Linked DNA regions of Homo sapiens: region 2 is linked to region 1. A link means that fine-mapping ties the variant in region 1 to the expression of a gene that starts in the linked region. Tissue or cell type: monocytes after LPS. Region 1 holds a variant in brackets; the other region holds the start of a gene. All regions are shown on one strand. Distances are from middle to middle.

Region 1 (8,104 bases):
GTGTGGACTTGCAAGGCCCATGGATCGGCTGGACCAGCAGTCGGAAGGAAGAGGTGCCACGGACAAGAGTAAGAACAAACGGGAACATGTGTCTGTCCGCCACCCCTGCCCATGTCACTGCCACAGTGACCTGCAGGAGAATCCGCCGCCTTCCCTCTGAGAGGCTTTGTAACCATGGTTACAAAGGAAGGGCCCTGGGGAGTATGGAATCTGCACCTCATTTCTGCCCTGGTCTGTAACTTTGGGTAAGTTACTGATAGTAGTCAACTTCTCCATACCTTGGTGTCCTCACACATTAAATGTATACAAAAACTCACACCTCCCTTAGAGAGCTGCGGAGAAGATCCAATGGGAATGAGCCCAGCCTGGCAGCTGACATTTCCTAAGCAGTCAATTAATAATAGTTACTAGCAGTGTCAAAGAGTTGCTATCCATTTATTTTGCTGTAAAAAAAAAGTCACTTGTTTTAAAAGACAAGATAGGCTGGGTACGGTGACTCACGCCTGTAATCCCAGCACTTTGGGACACCAAGGTGGGTGGATCACCTGAGGTCAGGAGTTCGAGACCAGCCTGGCCAACATGGCGAAACCCTGTCTCTACTAAAAATACAAAGATTAGCCAGGTGTGCTGGTGTGTGCCTGTGATCCCAGCTACTTAGGAGGCTGAGGTGGGAGAATTGCTTGATCTGGGGAGGCAGAGGTTGCTGTGAGCCAAGATCATGCCACTGGACTCCAGCCTGGGCGACAGAGTGAGACTCTGTCTCAAAAAAACAAAACAAAAACAAAAGACAAGATATTAAGAGGCAGTATGTTTCAAAATCCTCTCTTGATTAAGTAACTCACCAGGTAAGTCTTGGAAAGATAACATAAACCACCTTCAAAAGCATCTCCAAATGCCAAAGTGAAAATCAGATACCGCGTACAAGAGAGCTACGAATCTCTGAAATCTTAGCGATTCTTCCCCCAAATAAATGGAACAGAGAAGCGCTAAGTAATGGGAAAATAACAAAATTCTGCTTCAGCACTGTTACAGATGCAGTGACTGCTGATTAAAAGAAAATACTTCCTTTAAAAAGGCCACTTATGAAAAGGAAACTCTGGTAGCAAAAGCTGGCATGGAATGGGGGTCAGGCAGCAGGTGGTGGCCACAACCAGGGGGCATTGATCACATGTGAGATGGGGAAGGCCAGTGGGCCTCCAGGAGGGCTGAAGGGCAGAGGACCCAGAGGACAGTGGCTCCCTTCCTTCCCGCTGCTCAGAGAGTGGTGGGGAGAAGGGTTTCCTGTAACCTCAGGGCCTGTTTTCACTGCTTGTTTTCATGGCCATTCAATGCTCTGGCTTGTTTTCAGGCCTGAAGAGGGAAAAAAAAATAAAAGTCAATTCCTTGTATTTGGAAGAATAGGGGTAAACTGGCCCTCTTCAGGGTGTTGGAAGCCTCTCTCTGCCTCCTGCTGGAAAAAGAGGCCCCTGGGCAGTCTTTTTAGCCACTTAGCCTGGTTCTGAGGTTTTCTTCTTAACAACTTATAATTCCAGATTGCAGCAAGAAATACAAATGCATTGGAGACCGGGTCTGTGCCAGAGGTGGAGGGGTTGGGCAGAGTGTTCCCAGGAGCACAGCAGGAGGAGAAAGTTCCAGGGTAGAAACTGGAACTCCTGCATGTTGGACACAAGTGGAATGGAGGCAATGTGGCCATCTGGATATGATTAAAAAAAAAAAAAGTTCACCCCTTTGATCCAAGCATCTCATATCTGGGGCTATCTATGCAATAATGTTTAAGACAAAATTGTTTGCAAGTAGGGAAAAAATAGAAACAGTCCAGCTCTCCATCAATAGGGAATTCATTAATTAAATTATTATGTTGACATCTGTCAGTGGCAACTTGTTTCTTTTTTTCCTTCAACTCTGTCTTCCCCATCAGCTGGTCCCGTGGGCTCTGCCACTGAGGCATGTTCCAGGCTGGAGGCTGCATCCCTAGTCCCTGCCACCATCGCCTCTTGCCCGTGCCTCTGAATCCTGTAGCCTGACAAACTTCCTGGTTCCTCCATTGGTGCCTCTCCAATCTGTTCCTACACAGCTGCAGGACCCCCGGGTTCAGGGACTTCACATGTCTCTCAGGCTAAAATCCACAGGCGCTGTCTCACTGGGCCCTGGCCTGACTCTCCAACCTGGTTTCAAAAATGCTCATTCTTTACCTCCAGTTGAATCACACTTGAGCTTAGTGCAGCCTCCCAGCCTTTGCCCTGGCTGCTTCCTCTGCCTGGACTGCTCCATTCTCCTTCCTTCTCTTCCTTCCGGTGGCAGTAAAATGCCATATCCCTGGGGACTTCACGCACTGTCTGTAAATTGTTTTCCCTCTCCCAACCAGCGTCTCTCTAACACTTTGTCCATCTTTTCTTTTTACTTTTTTCTTTTTTCTTTTTTTTTTTTTGTTTTTTGAGACAGAGTCTCACTCTGTCACCCAGGCTGGAGTGTGGTGGTGAGATCTCGGCTCACTGCAAACTCTGCCTCCCAGATTTAAATAATCCTGGTGCCTCAGCCTCCAGAATAGATGGGATTACAGGCATGCACCACCACATAGAGCATTTTTGTTTTGTTTTGTTTTTTTGTATTTTTAGTACAGATGGATTTTCTCTACTAAAACCCTAGGCTGGTCTTGAATGCCTGGCCTCAAATGATCTGCCCGCCTCGGCCTCCCAAAGTCCTAGGATTTCAGGCATGAGCCACAGAGCCTGGCCCCATCTTATTTTCTTCATAGCACTCAGTATAAGGTGAAATGCTCTCAACTATTTATTCATGCATTTGTCAATTATCCCTCCCATGAGAACTCAGAGCAAGGACTGAGTGTGTTGTATGCCCTTGCCTGGTGTACAGGAGCTGCCCGCTCTACACATGTTTGGTGAATGAATGAATGAATGAATGAATGAATACAAGAATGTTATGAAGCTGCTTGAAAGAATGAGGTAGACCTGTATGTCTTACTTGGAAAGGTGCCTTAAATGTATACATGTAAATCCACTTATGAAAAACCAGAAATTAATCAAGTCTATGGAATTAGAAGAGTGACTAGTTTTTGAGGGCTCACTATCATCTGGGCACAGTTTTAACCACTTTTACATTTATTGTCTTGTCTCATTTGGTCCTCACAGTAACCTTCTGGGATAGGTACAGTTTTTGGCACCATTCTACAGAGGAGGACGCTGACACAGAGAGGTTAAGAAACTTGCTTAAGGTCACGCAGTCAGGAAATGGGGGAGCCAGGAAATGAATGTATAGGGTCTGACCTCTGAAAGAACATTCACTAAATGGTGTAGAGTGTTTATTTCGGGATGGACAGGGGCTGAGGTGAGATTCTGGAGGCCGTGGGGTATTAGGGGAGAGGTCCAGACGCCAATTCTATTCCTGCAGTACTGTGTGATCTTGGGCAAGTCATCTGCTTCTCTGTGCTTACCTGGGAACCAGAGGCGATGGTGCAGGGCTACCGAGAGAAGTAAATAGGATAACGTACCCACAGCGCCCAGCTCGAGGCCCTCCATCAGCCGACGATGGGAATGTTTGGTGGAGTAAGTCTGCCCTTCAAGGCCTGAAAGCCCCGTCCCGGTTCCCTGCGCCAGGGCCGCACAGGGGTGGGGAGAGGGCCGCAGGGCCTGGTTGCTTGGCTTGAGGCAGGGTCCTCCCTCAGGGCCTCGGCTCTCCCAGCTGTCGGCCGCGCTGCAGCTTCCCCTGCTCTGGACCGCGACTGCCTGGGCTGGGCGGCCGCACCACGGAATGCGCAGGGGTCATTTTTGGAAGAGCTCAGCTCCAGGCGCAAGGTGCCAAGAGCAGGGCGGATGACTTCAAAGGGCCTTTGCAGCACGTCCTGAAAGATGAGCCCTTGCAGCTCTCCCTGCCCCCGCAGAACACACAGCTTGAAAGGGAAATCGAGCTCGGAGCAGGTGGCTCAGGAATTTGGTGCACGCTGGGGAGGCAGCTCATTTGGGCACAAATACGCGAGGAGGGCGTGGCCTCCTTACACTCCCGGTTAGTATTGCGCGTTTGGGTCCGGGGTAAGCTCGCCTTCTGAGCTTTCATCGCTGGCCGCATTTCGCATTTATTTTTCTGTTTATTTCATGATCCCTTTCTTCCCCGACGAGGGCCTGGGATTTGTCTGTTGCTCTCTGTGTCTACAGTTCGACCTGCAGCGGAGGATGAGTAAATGTTTCCCTAGTGAATGAATGCGTTTTCCTCTTCCACCGGTTTCATCACGTTGGAAAGGCACCGGGGTTTAATCCTGCCTCTAGTAATAACCAG[T/C]TGGGTAATCTTGGACTTCGCTGTTCAGCTATAGGCTTAAAATCTGCCTCCATTTGAACCCAGGCCCTGCCTCTTACTAGCTGCGTCACTTTAGAAAGTTGCCAAACTTCTCTGTGTTTCAATTTCCTCATTTGGGCAACGGGGTACTGAGTGCCTATGTCACAGATTGGAGTGAGGGATAAAGGGCTTAACACATACGAAGCGCGACTAGGACGGCACATAGTAAGGTCTAGATAAATATTAACTCGTATTATTTTATTATTATTTTAAAATCAACTTTATTAAAGTATTAACTTACAAACAATAAAATGCACTCATTTTAAAGTATACAGTTTGATGAGTTTTGACTGATATGTACACCCATGTAAGCACCACCTCAATCAAGATAAGCATTTCCAGGTCCCCGAAAGTTCCCTTTGTCCCTTTTAGTCAAGTGCTTCCCTCGCCCTAGCACCTGACTGATGAGTTTTGCCGGTTCTCGAACTTTCCATGAGTCTGGGAATGGTGGTTCACGCCTCTAATCCCAGCACTTTGGGAGACTGAAGCAGGAGGATCACTTGAGCCCAGGAATTTGAGACCAGCCTGGGCAACGTAGGGAGACCCAGTCTCTACAAAAATTTTTTTAAAAAATTAGCTGGGCTGGTTGGCATGCACCTGTAGTTCCAGCTACTTGCAGGCTGAGGCAGGAAGATCACTTGAGCCCAGGAGTTTGAGACCAGCCTGGGCCACATAGGGAAACCCTGTCTCTACAAAAAAAATTTAAAAAAAATTAACCAGGCATAATGCATTGCACTAACACTTATTCCACACTCAAGAAACGCTCTCTCCTACCTCCTCTCCCTTCTTCCCGTTAAAGGGGTCCTTCCAAGGGTATCGGGAGGCAGGAATCTAAAGGTCAAGGGCACTGTGGAGTTGATGGGGGAGAAACCACTGTGTTTATAAAGCAGGTTGTTATTTTTTCATTCTTTGCCTTGTGTCCTTTCCCCTACTTCCCTCTTTTGAGGATAATTAAAATGCAAGCTGGCACTCCCTTGGAGGAGACAGCTGAAGATTTAATTGCCCCAAGAAAAATTTTCCAGCAAAAGGTCCTGTGGTAATGGCAGCTCTCGGCCGGGCTGCCCGAGTGCCTTTGCATCTGGCACAAAACATTAGCGATAATGCATTAATCTGCATGTGCACAGGGTCCATTTACTGGCATGGGGGGGAGCCATGGCAGAATCAAGCCGACAGCCTTAGTCAGGCTGCAGCCTTCTTGCCATTAAACTCTCACCCGGCCTCATTCTGGAGACAGGTCTGTGGCCCAGATCCATGCGACCGGCTGCCGCACCAGCTGACCTTGCCCAGAGAGGGCCTGCGGGGGCAGAAGGCCCAGGTTGGTGGGAACGGCACCTTCTACCATGAGGGCTTGGCCTGTTGTCATTGAAGCAGAGCCAGGAGGACAAGTCTGTTGAGAGGCTGAGCCCCGCCAGCTCCCAAAGTTGAGCCATTGACCAGCCACGCTAGGGTTGTGCAATTTGAGAGTAGACAAATTTTTGCAATCTTTTATCCTGTTTTCTAAGTATAGCCCCAGTTTCTCTAGAAGAGGAACCAAAGGCTCAGACAAAGGTCATTGGCTCCTTGCCTGTTGGGGATCATGCGTCATTTTTTTAAAAAAGTGATTGCCCTGAACCCAGGATCATGATGAAAGGCAGAGAAACTCAGTGGGAAAAGTCAGATGTACTGAGGTTTGCTTCTAGTTCCAAACCTGCCAGCCAGGGACTCTCAGTTCTCCTAAAATGCCAAGCAGACTCCGACTTTTATGCTCTTCCTTCTCCCCCTTTGCTCTCTTCCCTCCCTCTCCCCCTTCCTTTCTTCCTTCCCACCCATCCACCCATCCGTGCTCTCCTGCATCAATCCAGCCATCCATTCAGCCTCCCTTCTTCCATCCATCTATCCTCTCATCCTCCTTCTCATCACTCCGTCCATCCTCCCATCCCTCTAATATTTGCTGGGTGCCTCCTATGGGCTTAGCATAGGAGTTACACTGATGAGTGAATCAACACCCTCCTTGCCCTGAGGCAGCAACTGGGGCAGTAGAGGAGAGGATGGTAATCATGTAATCACAGTGCCAATGTATAATTACAAATTGAGATGAGGGCTACAAAGAAGGGCTGGACATGGTTACTATGGAAGTGTTTGACAAGGGAACTTAGCCCAGCCTCTGGATTGGAGGACAAGCAGGAAAGATCCAGGGAGTGTTGCAGGCAGAGGGAGTAGCTCATGCCGGGGTCCTGTGGTTCATTTTAGAAACTGGCAGGAGGCTGGTGTTGCCAGTGCAGGGAGTGATGGAGAGAGTGGTGTGAATCGGGCTGCAGAGCTCAGTAGGGGCCAGTGCACACAGGGACGGCTGGCCTCTGCCAGGCACTGGCTCCTTGGAACTCCTTTGCACTGGCTCTTTTGCACTTACCTGGCTTCTTGTTACTTATTTTTTAGATCTCAGTTCAGGGATTTCCTCTTCAAGAAGTCTTTTTCTGCCCTGTGCAGGCTGAATGAAGCCAGTATACTTTCCTTTAATAAGACAAAGTATCTCAAATTTGGAAATAAGGCAAAAGAAGGCAGTGCTTCATCTCGTTGCCATACTGGGGCACGGTTTAAAAGCCCCACTGAAGGATTAGTTAGTTCTGTAGAAGAATATACCTGAGTTTGTCTTTCCTATTTGATTAAGGCCCAGATTGGGGCTAATTTGTAGACTTTTGTCTGGTGGGTGCAAATGGCTTCTGTCTGGCAGAAAAAAAATATCTCCAAAGATATGGCCTTATTGCCTTGTGGGACATTAACCGGATTGATCTCTAACTTGAAAATGTTATTCTCACCTTCCTTTTTCAAAGCCTCTAAGTGCCCATTTACTCTTGGAACCAGCTCTTGCCCCACTGCTGGCTCACTCATTAGTGTGTTAATTCTGCACTTGTACGTCATGTTTGTCACGCCCTTCTCAGCAGCGCTCATCCCTGCACTGGGATTGCCAGTGGCTCTGGTTCCCTCATATATGAGCTCATATGGGTGTGGTCCATTTTTTGTCCACATTGTGTCCTCAGAACTTTGCACAGGGCCAGGTTCCAGTAGGAGCTTGAGAAATAATTACTAGTTGAAAGATCTTGAACTTATTACCTCTCCACCTCTCTGAGCCTCAATTTTCTTCCCTGTGAAATTGACATTCCATTTGTAAAGAATGTGAAGGTTCCATGAAGTAAAGAATTCGAGTGTCCAGAGTCCAGCGTGGCACATGGTAGGCTTTAGTCTCCCTTATCCTAGGGGCTGAATCCCAAAGGTAGAGCGTGAAGTTCTGGTTTGGGAGCTCATGTCTGGTCAAGAGGACACCAAGTCACTGGAGGAATGACTCATGGTGGGGCTAGGGAAGTCAAAGGAGTTGCTATATAGTATTTCTTGGGAGAGGAAAATCAACCTGGCCAAGGAGTCCAGCAGGGGCTGGGGAGGAGCAGGAAATGTTCTTAAACAGGTCAGGTGGTGGTATAAGGCAGAGGACTCCGAAAACCAAGCTGGGGTGTTGCACCCCATACCCGAAAGGTTGGTAAGAGAGACCTATCTCAGGCTAATGAGAAAGAGAGGGACTTGATAAAATTATTCGTCAGAAGACCCACCATTGCAGCGATGCTCTAATAACCTGGCCTGATATGTGAGTGTGTGGGTGTGAATGTGTGTGTGTTTCTGTGCATATGTCGACTGCTGTCTGCACCACACTGCTGCAAAGAGTCTTAAATCTACTTTCTCATCGAACTCTCGCAAGAACCCCCGGAGGTGAAGGCTGCTACTATCCCTG
Region 2 (8,104 bases), 160 kb before region 1:
CAAACTTTTCAAATGTAAGTTCCATTGGGGCAAGGGGTGGTGTGTTTTGCTTTGCTTTTTTTCTTTCCCTTCAAATACCACAGTAGGGACTCAGCATTAGGTTTAGTTGAGACTTCAAGGCAGATTCACACTTTTTGGCCTGTTCAAAATCATTCTGAGTTTTAGGAGGCAGGGCCAAGGGTGACTGTAAAGGACTTTTCTATTTAATGAGAGAGCTGAACCAGGTTATCTCTACGATTCCTTCCAGCTTTAACATTACTGGGTGGTATTTGCATGCTGTAAACCCAAGGCCCCAGGACAGATCAAGACCCCTAAATTTTGGAATCCAGAATAAGCAAAGTTTAACCTGGAGTAATTTTGGTATCTGTTCTCTATTTTAAGAAGCAAAAATGATTACCTATTTACTACTTGAAAAATCCACACATTGCAAGTCAGCTTGAATGTCATTTTCATAAGCAGAAACAACACATATTTTCTTCACTGCTCTGTCTCTGAGCCCTGAACACCGTAGAGGTTCAAATATTTTAAAGACTCCAAACAACTGAAAGGGACCAATCCAATCCAGTGTACGGCCTAAAGCAAAAGATTTCATTTTTCTAGGTCCCAGTTTTAGTTCACAAAGGGAGGATGAAAACACCAGTGTTTCTGTCAACTTGGTGTGCCTGACAACACAGAAAACAAGGTGTGTTCTATGATGAAACAAGTTTGGGAAACTTGAGCAAGAACAATGTGAATCTTGAAGGGGGTGAGGGTAGAAGAGTACAGAACATGGTGTGAACTTATATAAGGCAGTGAATTCCTCCCTATGTGGAGCACTTGCTGACATTAACAGTTTGCACAGTGACCCTATGTACCTAATGTCATAGGTACATACCCACTATCTTACAATAAAGGAATGCTCCTCACAGGGTTCAAACAATTTGCTCCATGTTTTGTGCAGTCAGTCCTGGGATGAGCCAGAGGGTCTAACCCCAAAGTCCATGGTACTAACCACTATGCTATGCTGCCATGGGGTCACTTTGGAATTTTGACAAATTCTTCAGGTGAGGAAAGTCCACATAGTATTTATATGTTGAGAGAGTAAGCAAGAGCTTCAAGCTGAGGTTGAAGGTTCGAGACTGGCGTCAATGAACTGAGGACACAAGGAATAAACATTCGGCAAGGCAAATTCCTACATCCCAAGGCAATCCTGTAGTAGGAAGTCCAGACCATTCATTGGCAGTAAAGGAGAAGACTAAGAGAAGTCTGAGAATAGAAAGACTTCAAAGTAAGTGATGCGCTCCTAGAATATAGGTAAGATAAACGAATCCCCTAGGGAGTCTTTTTTTTTTTTTTTTGAGACAGGGTCTTGCTCAGTCGCCCAGGTTATAGTGCCATTGCATGATAATGGCTCACTGTAGCCTCAACCTCCCAGGCTCAACTGATCCTCCTGCCTCTGCCTCTCAAGTAGCTGGGACTATAAGCCTGTGCCATCAGGTCCGGCTATTTTTTTTTCTATTTTTTGTGGAGACCAGGGTCTCACTTTGTTGCCCAGGCTGTTCCCAAACTCCTGGGCTCAAGCCATCCTCCCACCTCAGCCTCCCAAAGTGCTGGGATTACAGTCGTGAGCCATTGTGCCCTGCTGGAAGTCTTTTCAAAACAAAAACACTCACCCTGGGGAGAGGGTAGGCTTCTCAGAATGGATGGGGCACGGATGGACTTTATAAAGTTAGACATCTAATTAAAGGACTCTAGGTGATACTGATTCATGTTTCCAACTCCACTGTCAAACAACTGACTTGCAATGGGACAAAGCGTTCTCTTGGGAAAGACTTGGGGGATCTTTAAGTTGTGCAAAAGTAACAAGATTTTGGGAAACCACCCCCTCCAAACTCACCCCAAATCCTACCCACTCTTAAAAAAGTTCATCCTCAGGGTGCAGAGAACAGCATTACGCCTTCGAAAGGATCCAGGCCTCGAATCAAGACAGATCTGGGATCCCCGTCACTTAAGCTCTGAGAAATGTAAGGAAACCAGGAGTACAGTCTAACTTCCCTTTCAAGCGGATTAACCCTGATCAAGTTATTTGTTCACTTCTAAGCCTTAGTTTATTTATAGAAAAAGGATAGAATTTACTTTTGAAGTTATTACCTAAAAATTACTTCAGCACTGAGACCACAGCTGGGACTCGGATTAGTAAACTTTCTTCCCCTGGATCCTCCTGCCTCGGAAAGTCTCCTCAAACTTTCTACCGCCTCTCTCCTCTCCAAGCAGACACTTAGCTACTGGTAGTATGAAAAAGGCTTGTGAGTACTGAGTAGTTAGGATGAATACATTCCCTAACTGCAGTTAAAACCCGGAAACTAAGATAATTAGTTCCTCCAGGACTGCAAGACCTCTTGCCTCAATGTACCCCATTTTCCTTTTAAGTAAAACCACTTCCCAGCCAGCCTCTGAGGTTAAGAAAAAGATTAAGAATGTAAAACGGAGGGAAAAGATGCCGGATGCTTTGTTATGTGACAGCTCTCAGGCCACCTGTGAGGGTTGTCAGCCTGCACCCCTCAGAGGACCAAGCCAGAAGACAGTCAGTTTGCTCGGCTGCCTGGGATGAAGGGCCGGGGGCCTCAGAGGAAAAGGCAGACGAGGAAGCCACAGGAGTTTGGGGGTTGGAGCTGGAGGGTGTCAGGAAACTTGGAACCAGACAGGGAGAGGGTGTGGGTGGGTCCAGTCAAGTTTTTTCTTTTTGTTTGTTTTGGGAGGGAAAGAGAGAGGCCCTCGGGGGTGAGGAGGCTCCGCAGTTCTGCTACTAACTGAACCCGACCCCTCCTCCACTCCCCCAACCGATCTTAAAAATAGAAGACGTTTAATAACCATAGCTCGCAATTCTTGAGCACTTATTAAGTTAATGGTTAGCACTTAAACGAGCTCTTGTTATGGAAACACCAGCCAACTTTAGGCCCAGGGACTGATCTTAGGACCTGAGAAGAGAGGGCCGAATGCCTGGGCCCAGGAAAGGAGGGTGTGTCAGGGCACAGGGTGACAGGGACCAGGTCTGAGGCCTAGGAAGGCCAGGAACAGTGTGGGCCAAGCCGTCCGGAGAGCAGGGGGTCCAGGCCCTGCGTGGGTGGAAAGGCCCGCGGTGCTCCTACCTTTCAGCGAGGTCTCCACCAGGCGCAGGTAAAGCTGCGAGCTCTTGTTGCCGTGACTCATGCGCTGGGCTAACCCATTGCGCTGCAGGACGCACTCCTCAAACTGCACGACGTTCTGGTGGCGCCGCTTGAGGCTGGTGAGGGCCCAGAATTCAGCCAGCGCCAGCTCCACGTTCTCGGGGGCGTCGCAGCGGATCTTCTTGACCGCCACCCGGGCCCCGCTGCGCCCGGCCACTGCCTCATAAACCACGCCGTAGCTGCCGCGCCCGATCTCCGCCAACAGGCTGTAACGCGGCCGCGCGGACCCGCCACCGCCCTCAGGCCGTCGCCGCGCCAGGAAGGCCTCGCCCGGGGCCTCGGCCGCCACCGGATCCATGGCCCGGGCCGCCGCCGCCGGCCTCAGCTTCGTGCTGGGCGCCCGCGGCACTGGGCTTCGCCTTTTCCGCTCCGGGCTTTGTGTACCTCTGCGGGCGCCGTCCTTCCCCGTTTCCATGGCTGCGGGCGGCGGGGGGAGCAGCAACGGCGCTGCCCGGGCCCCCCCTGCCTCATCCCTCCGTCCGGCCCTGGGACGCGGAGGAGCCGGACCTTGGATTGTGACCTGCGGGCGAAAGAATCGGTTAAACGGCCAGGCCAAGGCGGGGAGGCCAGGAGCGTAGGCCGCGGGGCGTCCCACCTCCTCCTCCCCCGGCCGCCGCGGCCCCTTTAAGACGGAAGCCACCGCCGCTGATTGAACGGGGGAGGGGAGGGGAAAGCGGGAAAGACCGAACCACTGGGCAGCAGCTCAGAGGGGGAACCGGAAAGAAAAGCACAAACTCTCCGCTCTCTCTGTTAGCTTGTCATGTAGCGATAGGAAAAAGAAGAGCCAGCAAGCTTCACGCCTTCTGAAAACCGCTTAGAGACGCGATTTGGCCGGCGGAAATATTTTTCTTTGCTTGGCCCCCTCTGTGACGCTCCTCCCCGCGCCCCGCCTTGTGTTCGCCCGGGTGTAAACAGTCCATTGAATTAAGCCCTAGCGGAGCCCAGCGGACCGACCCAAGTCCCCGAGGGCGACGGGTAGAAGGGATTGGCTGAAAAGTTCGGCTTCTCGGAGTGCGACTGGCCGAGGACCCGATTTCCCTTCCCAAGCGCGGAGGCAGTGGCAGTAACTCCAGCCTCGGCGCTGGCCTTCAGTCCTCCAACGGCGCCCTTACCTGGCCCGCGCACCTCCACTTCCGGGCGGCCCGTTTCCCCCCTGGAGCCCCTGCCTGGGGATGGTCCGCTCCGGGCCCGGGCTGCCTCCGGGACCGAGCAGCGCGGGAGGTGGCGGCCCGAGCCCGGCGTGTAGCGGATCCTTCTGCTGCCGCGGCGCTCGCTGGGGAAGCCTGGGCTCCTAGGCTCCCGTGGCTTTCCACGTGTTCGCGCCAGCTGAGCCCTTTACATAACCTCTTTACATAAGCTGCACCTCCCGCCGGCGCCCGGGCCAGCGGAGACTCCTGGTGGCCCATCCCCCGGGACGCCAGCCGAGTGAGCCCTGCACCGCCCGGTCCTGCAAAGGTCGACGGAGCAGCCGCAGCCGAGCGCACCGGCACGCCTTGCCGGGACCCAATCACTGGCGAGAACACCCAGCCAACAAAAAATAGGCGCGAAATTCCCGTGATCCGCGGCGGGCTCCGGGTCTCCGCAGCGGCCCGCGCATCACTATCCCTTCTCGCCTGATCTGCGTGAAGACCAACCGTCCGCAGTAGGCGCCTAATAAATACTGACTGGGTGATTGTCTTGGTCGTTTGATTCATAGCTCTGTCCTGGGAACCTCAGGGACTGGGTTGGAATCCCGACCTTCCCTTCTACCAGCCCAGTGATCTTGTGCAAATCATTGACCCACCCTGAGCATCCGTTTATCTAATGATCCTCTGCAAAATGGATAGAATGGGCTTTAATTCCCAGGAATGATAGACCCAAATGAAATACCTAGATGGAGGCTAATTGGGTGTGGGGCTGTTAGTACCCAAAGCTCCCATTTAGGCACAGATTTTTGAATATTTTGTTCTGTATTTTGTATTCCAGTGTAGGCCTAGTGGGTGCCCAGTGTTTGTTAACTGAATCTACAGATGTTTATTGAACACCCGTAATGTGCTAGGCACCATTCCAAGTCGCTGGGGAAAGAGCAATAGACAAGGCAGTTTCTGCCTTGGTTGAGGTTCTGTGCCACTGCAGGAGACAAACCACATGGGTGGCCTTGGGCAAGTTAGTCAACCTTCTTGTGTATTTGTTCCTTACCTGTAAGAAGATCCACAGAGGTTATACAGGTAAAGCACTTAGGACAGCCTTGCACACAATGTTAAGTATTATTAAATAAATGCACAGGATAATTTTTGCCAGTGGTAAGTGTGATGGAGAAAAAGAATGAGCTAAAGAGTGCTCACTGGATACAGGCCATTTCTTATAATGTATTTGGTCGCTGAAAACCTCTTAACTTTTTTGTGATTAAATTTCAAATTTACACATAAATTTCAAGAATCGTAAAGATCATATACTTTTCCACTAGAATAACAAATTGTTATATTTTGCTGCATATCCATATCCTCTCGTGTATGTGTATATATACACACAAATACATATTGTGTGTGGATATCTATATGGTATATACCCCAAAAGAAAGGAAATCAGTATACGGTATATAGATATTCACACACACACATATATAATGTATATATTCTTTTTTACTACATCATTTTAGAGTTTCCAACATCAAACTCCTTTATCCTAAATATATGTGTGTGTTTCCTTAAAAAAAAGACATTATCTGGCATAATCTCAGTACAGTGGTCAAAAATCAGGAATTTTAACAATGATACAATTGTTTTATTTAATACACTCCATCCATATTTAAATTTTGCTAATGGTCCCAATAATGTCCTTTATAGCTATTCCCCAGGATCCAATTCAGGATCAGACGTTGCACTGAGTTGTCATGCCTCTTTAGTTTCTTTTAATCTGGAAGGGCAGTTAGTTATCCAGCCTTTCTTTGTCTTTCATGACCTTGACATTTTTGAAGAATACTGGCGAGTTATATTGTAGAATGTCCCTAAATTTTTATTCATCTGTGTTTTCTTATTAGTTTCAGAGTATCCATTTTTCTCTCCTCCCCCACCCCCCACCAACCCATCCCTTGCTATTCTGAGAGGGTATGCATTTTTTGGCAGGACTACTGCTGAAAAAAGTTGCCTCCTCAGGGCCTTTCATCAGGAGGCACATGGCATTGTGTTTGTCCCAGTATTCGTGGTGTTAACTTCCATCATTTGGTTGAGGTGGTGTAGGAGTAGTTACACTCTACCATAAAGTTACGATTTTTCCTTCTGTAACTATTAAGTATTCTGTGGGAAGATATTTTGAGACTATTTAAATATCCTCTTCTTTAGACTCTTACCCACTGGTTTCAGAATTCATGGTGATTCTTGCTTGAAACAATTATTACAGTTGCAAAATGGTGATCAGAAGGTCTTTTTAACCATAACCTTTTTTCTATTTCTGTGAAGAATGTCATTGGTATTTTGATAGGGATTGCATTGACTCTTTAGATTGCTTTGGGTAGTATGGACATTTTAACCAATGTTGATTCTTCCTATCCATGAACATGAAATATCTTTCCATTTTTTGTGTGTCCTCTTCAATTTCTTTAATCAGTGTTTTATAGTTTTCATTATAGAGATCTTTCATTTCTTTAAATTAATTCCTAGGTATTTTTATTTATGGCTATTGTAAATGGGATTACTTTTTAAATTTCTTTTTCAGATTGTTCACTGTTAACATATAGAAATGCTACTGATTTTTGTATGTTGATTTTGTATCCTGCAACTGTACGGAATTTGTTTATCAGTTCTAACAGTTTTTTGGTGGAGTCTTTAGGTTTTTCCAAATATAAGATATAATATGCAAACAAGGATAATTTAACTTTTTCCTTTCCTATTTGGATGCCCTTTATTTCTTTCTCTTGCCTGATTGCTCTAGCTAGTACTTCTAGTACTTCTAGTACTGTGTTGAATAACAGTGGTGAAAGTGGGCATCCTTGTTGTATTCCAGATCTTAAAGGCTTTCAGTTTTTCCCCATTCAGTATGGTACTAGCTGTGGGTTTGTCATATATGGCTTTTATTATGTGGGGGTATTTTCCTTCTATTCCCAGTTTTTTTTAGGGTTTTTATCATGAAACCATGTTGAATTTTATCAAATGCTTTTTCAGCATCAATTGAAATGATAGTATGGTTTTTGTCCTTCATTCCGACAGCCTTATTTTATCTTAATTACCTCTTTAAAGACCTTATCTTCAAATATAGGCACATTCTAAGGTACTGGGAATTATAACTTCAACATGAATTTGGAGTGAGGAGGGACACAATTCAGTCCATAATAGCCTCTTTGGCATTTGACATTTGAATTGAAACCTGAATGTCAAGAACCCAGCTCTGAAACCGAATGGGAAGTCATTCCAAGAAGAAAGAAGAACAAGTACAAAAGCCATGAGATGGATACAAGCTTGTGAAACCAGCCATGTGGTAAGATTTTAAAATGGTACAACCACTTTGGGAAAAAAAAAAAAAACCAGTTTGGCAGTTTCTTATAAAGTTAAATATATGTCTACCCTGTGGCCCAGCAATTCCATGGGTCTCAGGTAAATGAAAACTTCTGTTAATAAAGCAACTTGTATAGGAATTCACAGTGGCTTTTCCCATAAGAATTCCAAACTGGAAAATGCTGCAGTGTTCAGCAATAAATGAATGGATAAACAAATTGTGGTATTCCCATACAATGAAATGTTGCTGAGGGTGTGTTGATGGGGGGAGGAATAAAGTATTGATACAACAGCATGTATGAATCAAAATAATTATGCTGAGTGAAAGAGGCCAGGCACAAGAGAGTACCTGCTAGATGATTCTATATACAATTCTTAACAATACAAACTAATTTGTAGTGACAGAAAGCAGATCAGTAGTTGGGGTAG

The links. PIP is the estimated chance that this variant, and not a neighbour inherited with it, causes the effect.
Region 2: it holds the start of STK35, and the variant in region 1 is fine-mapped to the expression of STK35 in monocytes after LPS (Quach 2016, PIP 0.91).

The regions. Positions count from the first base shown.
Region 1 is chr20:1,943,053-1,951,156 of GRCh38, reverse strand. It overlaps PDYN-AS1 (PDYN antisense RNA 1), which reads right to left and starts at 3,947. Exons shown (of 4, transcript NR_134520.1): 1 at 3,506-3,947. RefSeq lists silencers at 20-314, 3,660-3,954 and enhancers at 3,101-3,648, 5,082-5,628. The variant T/C (reference allele first, on the strand shown) is at 4,288.
Region 2 is chr20:2,098,390-2,106,493 of GRCh38, reverse strand. It overlaps STK35 (serine/threonine kinase 35), which reads right to left and starts at 4,667. Exons shown (of 4, transcript NM_080836.4): 1 at 4,319-4,667; 2 at 3,129-3,726. The coding sequence starts at 4,612. RefSeq lists silencers at 3,252-3,301, 3,322-3,851, 4,142-4,191, 4,202-4,491, 4,592-4,781 and an enhancer at 2,938-3,906.